Linked DNA regions of Homo sapiens: region 2 is linked to region 1. Evidence: fine-mapped expression QTL. A gene starts in region 1. The other region holds a variant in brackets. All regions are shown on one strand. Distances are from middle to middle. Region 1 holds the start of CERK (ceramide kinase). Region 2 overlaps CERK (ceramide kinase).

Region 1 (5,363 bases):
TCACCCCCCAACACACACACACACACACACACACTCTTCCCATTCCCAACTCTAAAGGAATAAATGCAGGGTTTGTCTAAGTGTGTTTTGCGACAGTCAGGGGAAATAACCCAGATATCAACTCAGTGTTTCCAGTTCAACGAGCATGACCCACTTCAAGTTCCTGTTTTCGTCCTGCCCTACTTCCCACCAGGCTGGCGGCCCAGGGCACTTGCTGTCGCGGCTTCCTCAGGTGCAGACCTCACCCAGGCCCAGGAAGCTGCAGCGATCCAAATTGCTAGTCCTTGTCTGTGCTCTTGTACAGTCAGTCACTGTCCCAGCATGATGACCCACTGACGAAAGTGCACGTGCCTGGGTTCAAAGCCAGCTCCCTCTGTACATCACTGCCTCTGGGCCCAGTCAATTCCCACTCCTACTGTCCACATCTGAAATAGGGGTGATGCTACGGAGAAAACAAAGGAGTCGGAATAACTAAGCGGCCACCCCAGCAGGGCACACACAGTGGCCTTGGCTTTGTCTTTAGCCCATTGGTCACCTGGAGCTCCAGGGCTGCTCCTGCCTCATCTCACAGGTCCTCCTAGGGCCAGTTTTTGCACAATTCTCCACCTCTCATCATTCCTCAACCTAATCAATCCCAGTGTGCCCAGATACACCTGGGGGAATGGGGAGGGCTGGGCAATGCCACCTTGCTGACCAAATTAAATGTCCTGTGAGCTGGTTCACATTCTTCTGCCCTACTATGGCCCTACTGACCTCAAGCATAGAAGAATCGAACCTGGGCCTGATTCCTTTTGGGGACTGTAAAGCTATGAGAAAAAAACTAGAGACAGTGTGGCTGTATTCCTGAACTCATTCACAACTTAGCGTTTCCCAACTTGTTGATGTTTTCCCATTGCATGGGAGAGCACTCCTGGGTGGAGAGGGCAGGCTGCTTCCTGGAGGAAGCCCACCAGCCAGGGCCACCAGCCAGGGCCCCACCATCCATGGCCCCACAAACCAGGGCCCTCCCTCTCCAAGAGGGACCAAGCTCCTGGCAGGCCAGTCAGGCAGCTCAGGATGAACCCGCACAAAAGCACCTTGGCTTAGCAAGAGTGAAGCAATTAGCATGCCAAGAGGCAAACCCCAGCAGGCTGGACAAAAGCAGACGCCACACCACACCAAGCCCTGACCTGGGGGACCAGAAACCATAATGGGAGCTGGCTGGGGACGCCAAGGCAGAAAGCAGTGATGACTGACCTCCCACACAGATGCCCTGTAAGGGTCTGGCGTCTCTGCGGCGGCTGGAGCCTGAGGGAAGCCTTACAGCCCAGTGGCTACAAGCACAGCAGCTAATTGGGCCAGTCACTTCCAGCCCCTGCAGATCGGCCCCTGCATCCCTAGGACGGGAGCAGCTGCCTCTCAGGAACCCATCCGGTTTGAAGCCCAGTGGCCCGCACTTAGGAAGTGCTTGGGGGAGGCAGTCATCTTCCTGAAGCCTAGGGATTTACAACAAAGTACAAACCCTTCGGGCCCAGGTCAGGCACCTGTTCTCCTTGTGTGTGGGCCCTGGTGGGTGATATTTGGGGTGTGACATTTCTACCAAAGGGGACATGAGAAATACCTTAGGAAAGTCAAGTCTCAGATGCCCAGCCACAGATAGGTGACCCCAGGGCTGGAAACCAAGTGTTGGTCATGGGTCTGAGACCACCCCTCGACCTTGGCCCCACCTAACGTTCAACTCTGTCCCCACCAGAACCCAACCCACAGATCCTCACCACTCAGCACCAGAAAGCGCCCAGAAGAACTCCTGACCTCGACTGCCCACAGGGTCTAAAGGTGTCATCCCAGGCTCCGAATATCCACCAGAGAATCTTGGCCTCCGCCACACCCACCCCATTCCAGCTCCGCACATCCAGCATGAATCCTGGCCTCTGCCACACCCACCCCAATAATTAAAAAGAAAAAAGGCTGGGTGCGGTTGCTCACACCTGTAATCCCAGCACTTTGAGAGGCTGAGGTGGGCAGATCACCTGAGGTCAGGAATTCAAGACCAGCCTGGCCAACATGGTGAAACCCTGTCTCTACTAAAATACAAAAATTAGCCGGGCGTAGTAGCGGGCTCCTGTAATCCCAGCTACTCCGAGGCTGAGGCAGGGAGAATTGCTTGAACCCAGGAGGCGGAGGTGCAGTGAGCCAAGATCGTGGCATTGAACTCCAGCCTGGGCAACAGAGCAACACTCCGACTCAAAAAAAAAAAAAAACAAAAAACAAACAAAAAACAACAAAAAACAAAAACAAACCCTCTGTCCTCCTGCAGGGCTCTCTCCAGGGTGGGCTATGCGTCCTCCATGTTTACCAAAGTCACTCTTCTCCTCATCCGGAGGGCCTCTGCGGGGCAAGTAGCCAACCCGTGGCACGGAAACCAATTCCCCCATCCCGAGCAGGGAGCACACCCCACAGAAAGTCAGGGGCCCCTTCTTTAACTTCTTAACAGGAAGTCCTCACCCTGCAAGGGCGCCTCTCAGGTTTCGGATCCCTGCTAAAGAAAAGCATCTGTTCTTGGAGTAAACTGCAATGCGCGCGGTGGGGAGCGCCTGGCACCCCCCCTCGGGATCCATCCACAGTCCGTCTTGTCCAGAGGTGCCCTGCGGACAGACCGCACCGGGGGCCACGACCCCGCGCCCCGGGTCCCACCTCCCCGCGGGGATGGGGCGCCGGCCTCCCCTCCACTGCGCGGCGCTTTGTCCTCGGGTTCCCGGAGCAGACGGCGGCGCACAGCCCGGCCCCTGGCCCCGGCCTCCCTCCCGCCTGCCCCGACCCCTCCCTGGCGCCTGCGCTCCCAGGGCCCCCGGCCTTACCACAGCCGCTCGCTCCCTGCACCCGGTCCCCCCAGCCGGGTCCCCCAAGCCGCCCCCGCTCCCTGGCCAGGTCCGGCCGAACCCGGGCGGCGGCGACACTCACCCGCGCCGGGGGCGCCGGCTCCGGGCCCCGGGCTCCGCCACCAGCGCAGCAGAGCCCGCGCGGGCTCCAGGCTCACGGCGCAGCGCTGCTGCTTCACCCACAGCACGGATTGCAGCGGCTCCGCCGCCCCCGTCGCCCCCATCTCCGCCGCCGGGCTCGTCCGCCAGGCTGGGGGCGCGCGGACGCCGAGGGGCGCCGGACCGTTAGCGGCCCCTGCAGTGGCCCGGGCGGCGGGCGGCGGGCGGCGGGAGGCGGCGCTGCGTCACCCCGTACGCGGGCGGCGGGGACCGCGGAGGGGACGGGCGGGGCGGGGGCGAGGAGGAGGCGTGGGTAGAGGAGGGGCCGGGAGCCAGGGAGAGACGGGGGGACCCGAGAAGGGGAGAAGAGGGAGGAGGAAGGGGCCGGGATGGGGCTGGCCGAGGCCAGGGCGCTGGGGCCGGGAGGCGGCTGCCTTTCTCTCCTCTCTTCTCCGGCGGGTGCCGGGTGCTGAATCTGGCGCTCCCGCGGCCGGCCGGGACTCAGTGGCGCCTTCCGCGCGGGCCTCGGTTCAGGCGGGGTCCGGGCGGCGTGGAAACGCAGTCCTGGCGATCGGGCGCGGCGGGGGGCGGGCCTGGATGGGGGCGCCACGGGCGACGTGACCTTGGGCGGCGGGTGCCCTCTACGATCCTGGCGTCCTGTCGGCCTGGGAGGGGGCCTGCAGCTGGGCCCCGACAGGCAGGTAAGGCTTTCAGGAGGCGGAGGTCTTTTTAGGGGGCGGGGGCGCTGGCCCTTTGAACTGCTCTGGGGCCTGAAGCCACAGAGCAGACAGCTGAGCAGCCGCCCCCGAGCTGGCCCTAGGAACCGGAGCCTGGGCCCCAGACTTGGAGAGACACGGCCCCTGTGGCCCCAATTCACCGCCTCCCCAGGAAGGCCTCCTTGACCCCACAGCTGAAGGAATCACCAGCCTGCAGGGACTCCAGCCCTGCCTTCAGAGCACGCCGTGCGCCTTCATGCAAGCTCCAGTCTCTGCGTCCGCAGTGCTTAACACAGCCCCATAGGAAGCAGCCACAACCTGGTTCGGAGGGCACATCCCTCCCTGATTTATCAGTGAAGACTGTGCTCACAGAGGTTAAGTCACTTGCCCAAGAGCACAGGGCTCCAGTGTGGCAGAGCCTAGGCTCACACTGACACTGCCTGGATGTGACACTGAGGTCTGAGGCCTGCCCCTCCCCTCGGCTCCCCTACCCAGCCCTGCTGCTGCAGGCAGAGGTGAGGTGGGCTAGGTCCACGTGGCCTTGCTGCTGTGCCTGGCACCAGGTGGCAGCATATACAGGTCTTACCCTGCCAGCTCCTTGTGACTGTCTTGTCTATAGGGCGGGAACCAGCCATGAATCATTCCTCCCTGGGAGCCCAGCCCCTGTTCAGGCCATGCAGTGAAGGCCCCAGGACAGTCCTGCAGCCACCGTGGGCCCAGTCAGAGTCCTAGCAGGCAGTACCTGATCGTGGCACACAGTGGGGTGTGCAGCAGCGAGGCCTGCCCAGCCTCCTCCCTCCCTCAGCTGCCGCTCTGAGGCCTGGGAAATGTGGATCTGAAACTTACTTGGAAAGAAAAGCTCATGCCAGTGGCAGGAGGGTGCCGCTGCATGCGAAGAGGGTTGGCAGGCAAGGGTGGCATGGGCAGGGGCCCGAGAGCACCAGCGTCCCTACTGGGGACCCCTTCCCTGGGCCTCCCTGTGCTTAGGCTCCCCGTGCCCCTCCCGGCGTATTCACGTTGCTGTCCCCCGGCTGCACGCCTTGGCTTAAAATCCTGCAGCCAGAGGTGGGGGCCCAGAGACGACTCAGAAGTGCTTAGGCCCCGAAGGAGCTCCGTTGGGGGAGACAGCAACATCAGTTACAAAACACACAGGAGATTCAATGAGGCTGTTAGGGTGGGCCCTCATCCAGCGCGTCCTTACAAGAAGAGGAAATGTTGACCGGGCTCTGTGGCTCACACCTGTAATCCCAGCACTTTGGGAGGCTGAAGCGGGTGGATCACCTGAAGTCAGGCATTGGAGACCATCCTGGTCAACATGGTGAAACCCTGTCTCTACTAAAAATACAAAAATTAGCTGGGTGCAGTGGTGCGCTCCTGAATCCCAGCTACTCCGGAAGCTGAGGCAGGAGAATTGCTTGAACCCAGGTGAGCTGAGATTGCGCCATTGCACTCCAGCCTGGGTGACGAGAGCGAAACTCCATCTCAAAAAAAAAAGAAGAGGAAACGTGAACACACACAGACCCCCGAGGCGTGTGTACACAGGGGTGGCCATGGGAAGGGGCAACAAAAGAGAGTGACCTCCAGGAGGCCAACCCTGTGGGCTTGAACCTTGACCTCAGACTTCCAGCCTCTGCCAACTGTTCATGGGAGACGACAGATTGCTGTTGTTGAAGCCATCCAGTCCGTGATA
Region 2 (5,363 bases), 53 kb before region 1:
AATGATATGATGACAGAAAACCCCGAAATTCACAGGTAAATCATCATCATAGGAGTGTGGAAGCTGCTGGTACAAAATGAGTCAGGGGAGGCCGTGAAGAAGCTCTCGAAGACCTGCCTGTAGCAGAACTCACCCCAGAACCCTCGGGACTGCGACGAGGGCGCCCGCCCAGTGACGGCCACTCCTGCGGTGAACAGTACTGCCTCCTGCCAGGAGCTGCTGTGACCTGTGAACTTCGTTCTAGAGCAGCTTACATGGACTTCTTTGCCTTTTAAAGTGTTGCCTTTATCGCGAACACCCCCCAAAATGCCTTCCAGTGTAGCACGCATATCCTGACTGCAATCCCCTTGCTGTTCCTGAATAAACTCTTTCTTAGGAGAACACTCTGATGTCACTTTAGGTTGACGGGAGGCAAGGTTTCTGGATATAACCCAACACATAAAAAACAATTGTGGCGGGCAGATCACGAGGCCAGGAGTTTGAGACCAGCCTGGACAACATGGGGAAACCCCATCTCTACTAAAGATACAAAAAACTAGCTGGGCATGGTGGCATGCACCTATAATGCTAGCTACTTGGGAGGCTGAGGCAGGAGAATCACTTGAACCCCGGAGGCAGAGGTTGCAGTGAGCCGAGATCACACCATTGTACTCCAGCCTGGGCAACAGGGCGAGACTCCGTCTCATAACAAACAAAAAATTGCATTTCTATGCAAAACAAAACAAATTTTAAGATAGCCTCAAAGGCCAAGTGTGGTGGCTCACGCCTGTAATCCCAGCGCTTTGGGAGGCCAAGATGGGAGGTTCACTTGAGGCCAGGAGTTTGAGACCAGGCTGGGCAACATGGTGAGACCCTATCTTTACAAAACATTAAAAAGCCTCAAAATAAGAACTTTTGGCTGGGCACAGTAGCTTACTCCTGTAATCCCAGCAGTTTGGAAGGCTGAGGCAGGAGGATTGCTTGAGCCCGGGAGTTCGAGACCAGCCTGGGTAACAGAGTGAGACCCCTGTCTCTACAAAAAATTTTAACAAAATAGCCAGGCATGGTGTTGCACGCCTGTAGTCCCAGTTACTCAGGAGGCTGAGGTGGGATTGCTTCAGTCTGAGAGATTGAAGTTACAGTGAGCCGTGATCACGCCACTGTACCCCAGCCTGAGCAACTGAATAAGACCTTGTTTAAAACAAGGTTAAAAACAAACAAAAGTCAAGTTTTAGGAATAAATCTAAAAATTTAAAGACTTTCATGGAAAAAATTATAAAATAATTAAAAGACATGAATGAGGATCTTTCATGGACCAGAAAAGTCAGTTTCACAATGCAAATGTCCTTTCGAAGTTCCTCAAATACAAATGCAAATGCCCTCTCAAACATGTGGAGTGGGCCGGGCGCAGTGGCTCACGCCTGTAATCCCAGCACTTTGGGAGGTCGAGGCTGGTGGATCACGAGGCCAGGAGCTCGAGACCATCCTGGCTAACACAGTGAAACCCCGTCTCTACTAAATATACAAAAAATTAGCTGGGCGTGGTGGCGGGCACCTGTAGTACCAGCTACTCCGGAGGCTGAGGCAGGAGAATGGCGTGAACCCAGGAGGCGAGCTTGCAGTGAGCCAAGATTGTAGTGAGCCGAGATTGCGCCACTGCACTCCAGCCTGGGTGACAGAGCGAAACTCCGTCTCAAAATAAATAAATAAATAAAAATAGACATGTGGAGTGAAAGAAGCAAGTTACAGAAAACAACACGTTTCCTTTGGATAAGGAGCAAAACCTGCAAAACTAAACTCGCTGTTGCAGATACAGCCATGGACAGAGGCAGGAAGGGATGCGCTTGGCGTGACCTCGTAGCGCCCTCCCAGGGGGAGCGGGGGGACTCCAGAGCAGGGCACAGAAGGCTTCGGGGCGGCGTTCAGTTGCCTGGCATAGGTGGTGGTGACACCTTGCTTCATTTTATTCTTGTTCTTTAAATTGTGTGTGTTTTCATGAAAAATATTCTGCTTTGAAAATAACAGGTATGTGTAAAGGAAAGAAAGCAAGCCAAGTCTGCCCAAGTAACTTTATTCGTGTCTTCTCAAACATTTCAGATCAAATAATGCCATTTTCTAATCTTGAAACCAGCAAGATTAGAAAGAGAATGAGGCCATCCTTTCACTCAGACTTTCCCAGTTACTCAAGATTGTATTCAGGAACGAAGTCAAACTCGGCCTCACTTCTTAATTAGAATAAACTAGAATCAGGTCCATTGCATAACTGCTAATTGTTTTGCACCAGGGAGCCACAAAGGAAGCTAAAACTAGCCTTTCTAAGTTATCCTAAGTTTTTACTATCTAACCAGCACTTCTGATTTTTTTTCCCTTAAAACTCTAAAGTACAGGTGTTGTATGTCTGCCGCATCTGAAAGGCTGCCCCGGAAATCAGAGCCTATCTAGCGGGAATGTCTGGGCAGTCACCCCCATCCTGCGCGCAGATAGCAAAGGGCTGCTGGCAGGTGTCAGACACACGGTACCGCAACAGCAGTCCCGAGGTCTGAGATTCTGAATGTCAGCAGGTGGCTGGAGAGTATCACCAGAGCCACTCAGGAACCAGCCATGCGGAATGGCTGGGTTTCTTATTGAACATGAAATGCTTCCTCTTTGGCCTGGACTGTTTTGCTAAAATTGTTAGTGGGTTTTGGGGCAGGCCAGTGTATGGGAAACTTTTTTTTTTGTTGGGGGGGGCGATGGAGTCTCCCTCTGTTTGCCCAGGCTGGAGTGCAGTGGCGCAATCTTGGCTCACCGCAACCTCCACCTCTTTCTTGGGTTCAAGCGATTCTCCTGCCTCAGCATCCCTAGTAGCTGAGATTACAGGCGTGCGCCAACAAGACTGGCTAAGTTGTGTATTTTTAGTAGAGACGAGGTTTCACCATGTTGGGCAGGCTGATCTCAAACTCCTGACCTTAGGTGATCCACCCGCCTCGGCCTCCCAAAGTGCTGGGATTACAGGCGTGAGCCACCGCGCCCAGCCGGGAAACATTTACCAGGGACAATAAAGGCTTAGAAGAACCTTTTGGGGAAACTTTGTGAGGAGCACAATTCCAGAGGGCCCACAGCAGCCACAGCCTCCTGGCGTGACACCAGGCACACTGCCGGCTGCACAGGTTGCT[GGGCACAGGCA/G]GGCACAGCCAGTCTGGAAGAGCAGCCCGTCTTAAATCTTTGGTTTCTTTCCAACCAGGAGCAAACATTGGTAGAAAGAGCCAGGGCATATTTACTCTTTACACCCAGAATTTTCATTCATTATTGAACCATTTGGCTTGCACAGTGCTCTCTGATAATGTGGTCCATAAAAACCACCATTAAAGCTGCCCTTTCACCTGATCTGGGTGGGGCTAAACGAGGAAACGAGAAGTTTCCTGTATGCTTCAAAATATAAATCAATGCCAGGAAATTCTGAAAATGGATGCTGCCTGTTAAACATGAAATCACTAAGGGAGCTTCTGCAAAACCCACCCGGCAGCATGAGGAACGGTGTCTACAGCGTGCTCCAAACGGCCACGGCCCCGCTCCTTACAGATCAAAGTTTAAGCCGCATATTCTCATATTTCAAACAAAACTACGTTACAGACATCATCTACGTGGGCACGGATACACACTAAACAAGGACGTAGTACACAATTGAGGGGTGCCCCGGGGAGCGCGGCAGGAATGCCTTCCGGGAAGAATCCTCTGGTCGCCGGAGCCCTCGCGCTGCAGAGGAAACCAGCGATCCATCGTGGCTTCGAGGCAAAAGACAGACATCCGAGACGCAGTTTACACTACTCTGGCTTAAAAGGACAAGATGTTCAATAAATATAGAGAACTCAGTGTGAAGAAAAGACAAGGACAAATCTGGACCACGTGTACAGACTTCAGGCCCTGCCTCAGAGGAGTCCTGCGGGAGTCCAGGACCGGCCCCTCCTCCACGGATGGCCAGCTTCCTCCTGACTGCCCCCAAGCCCGGCTGTGTTAAGCACTTCGCGTCGATATAAAGCATTGGTATTTGACATTTTAACAGTAACAAACTTGCCAGTGCTTTACACACTGCCAGCTTCCAGAGCTTATCATCCGTGCTCCCAGAACAGACGCCAAGGTCATGCTCCCAGCCGGATTGTCGTAGCCTCGCCGCCGTGATGAGGCAGGTGTGGAGGCCCCAGCAGCCTTCCCGGCGCTGGCGTGGAGGCCCCTCCCGCGGATCACCTGAAGCAGGGCCACGTTGCATTGCAGTTGCACAGTATTGTAAGGATCAAGCAGCGATGTCCTAACCGTAAACGAAGAGGAAGGTGAAATGAAGGCAAAGAGAATCAACCACTTCCCAAAACTTGGCCACAAACCGTTACAGAATAAGTCCTGCAAAGTGGATCAAAGTGACCCACTGCTACCTCAGGCCCAGATGGTGTGACCTGCGTGGAAATCATATAATGTCCCTAACATTATTGCAATAGAGCCACTAACGGGCCATTTTCTAAACTACACTGTTGACATCGTTAAAACCTAAGAGGCCAGTGCCCCCAAGTGAGCAGCTGCATCCGCTGAGAGTAAGCGGCGTGGGCTGCAACCCGCAGATGCGTACAGAACTGAAAATGCCAAATATGTACACAAAATTGTTGACAAAAGGGTTTTCTTCTAAAATCAAGATTTAACTATCAAAAATAAATTTCTACATTTAAATGTATATATCAACATAATTGGTCTGTAATAATTATCTTAAATAGTTTTCACACTTTCCCAGTTTGTGAGCAGGACGCCGGCTTCTCAGCTGTGTGAGTCTGGCTTCGGATTCTCTTCAATTCCTCGTGCAAAGAGTCGAACCAGCTGGCAGTGGACTCTGCAGAGACAAGCGGCCACGTGTAAACCCCACGTGTCCCTCACTCAAAGCTGGCCTGAGCCCCACTCCTGGACAGGGGCTGCAGTAAACCCCACGTGTCCCTCACTCAAAGCTGGCCCTGAGCACCGCTCTTGGACAGGGGCTGAAGTGGGGGTCCATCCCCCATGGAACGGTCAGACGTCACCGTGGGCTGTAGGAGTCCAGCCCACAATGACGGGCCCTGGGCGTGGAATAATTCACTTAGACTCCCGGGATGCCGAGTTTGTAAAGGGGTTGCCAATGGCCAGGTGGGAAATCTGGGCATCGGTAGACCTGACTCGAACTCCAGCACCCCCATGGAAAGCAGAGCGTCCGCTCCAGTGTCTGCCCACTCCACCCACCCACCCACCTCCATTTTCTCAGCAGTACTGAGCGCGCAAGGCCTGCGAGGAGTCTGTGCGGGGCGACTCAATGCGTGTAAGAGATGTGTGAGGAATGCTCAGATGAGAAGGACAGGTGGCCCAACGCCAGCAAGAGCCTTCGGGCTTGAGGA

What was found.
Region 2: its variant is fine-mapped to the expression of CERK in whole blood (INTERVAL, PIP above 0.99).

Annotation. Positions count from the first base shown.
Region 1 is chr22:46,735,067-46,740,429 of GRCh38, forward strand. It overlaps CERK (ceramide kinase), which reads right to left and starts at 3,186. Exons shown (of 13, transcript NM_022766.6): 1 at 2,941-3,186. The coding sequence starts at 3,082. It overlaps LOC105373077 (a long non-coding RNA gene), which reads right to left and starts at 1,326. Exons shown (of 2, transcript XR_001755593.2): 1 at 1,237-1,326; 2 at 1-442. RefSeq lists enhancers at 998-1,571, 2,259-2,428, 3,667-4,325, 3,699-4,028 and a silencer at 2,579-3,538.
Region 2 is chr22:46,682,376-46,687,738 of GRCh38, forward strand. CERK (ceramide kinase) reads right to left here. Exons shown (of 13, transcript NM_022766.6): 13 at 2,035-4,831. The coding sequence ends at 4,759. It also overlaps a transcript of GRAMD4 not described here. Among named protein-coding and RNA genes, the nearest start is that of CERK, 53 kb to the right of the region's middle. RefSeq lists an enhancer at 1,155-1,656 and a silencer at 3,937-4,231. The variant GGGCACAGGCA/G (reference allele first, on the strand shown) is at 3,135.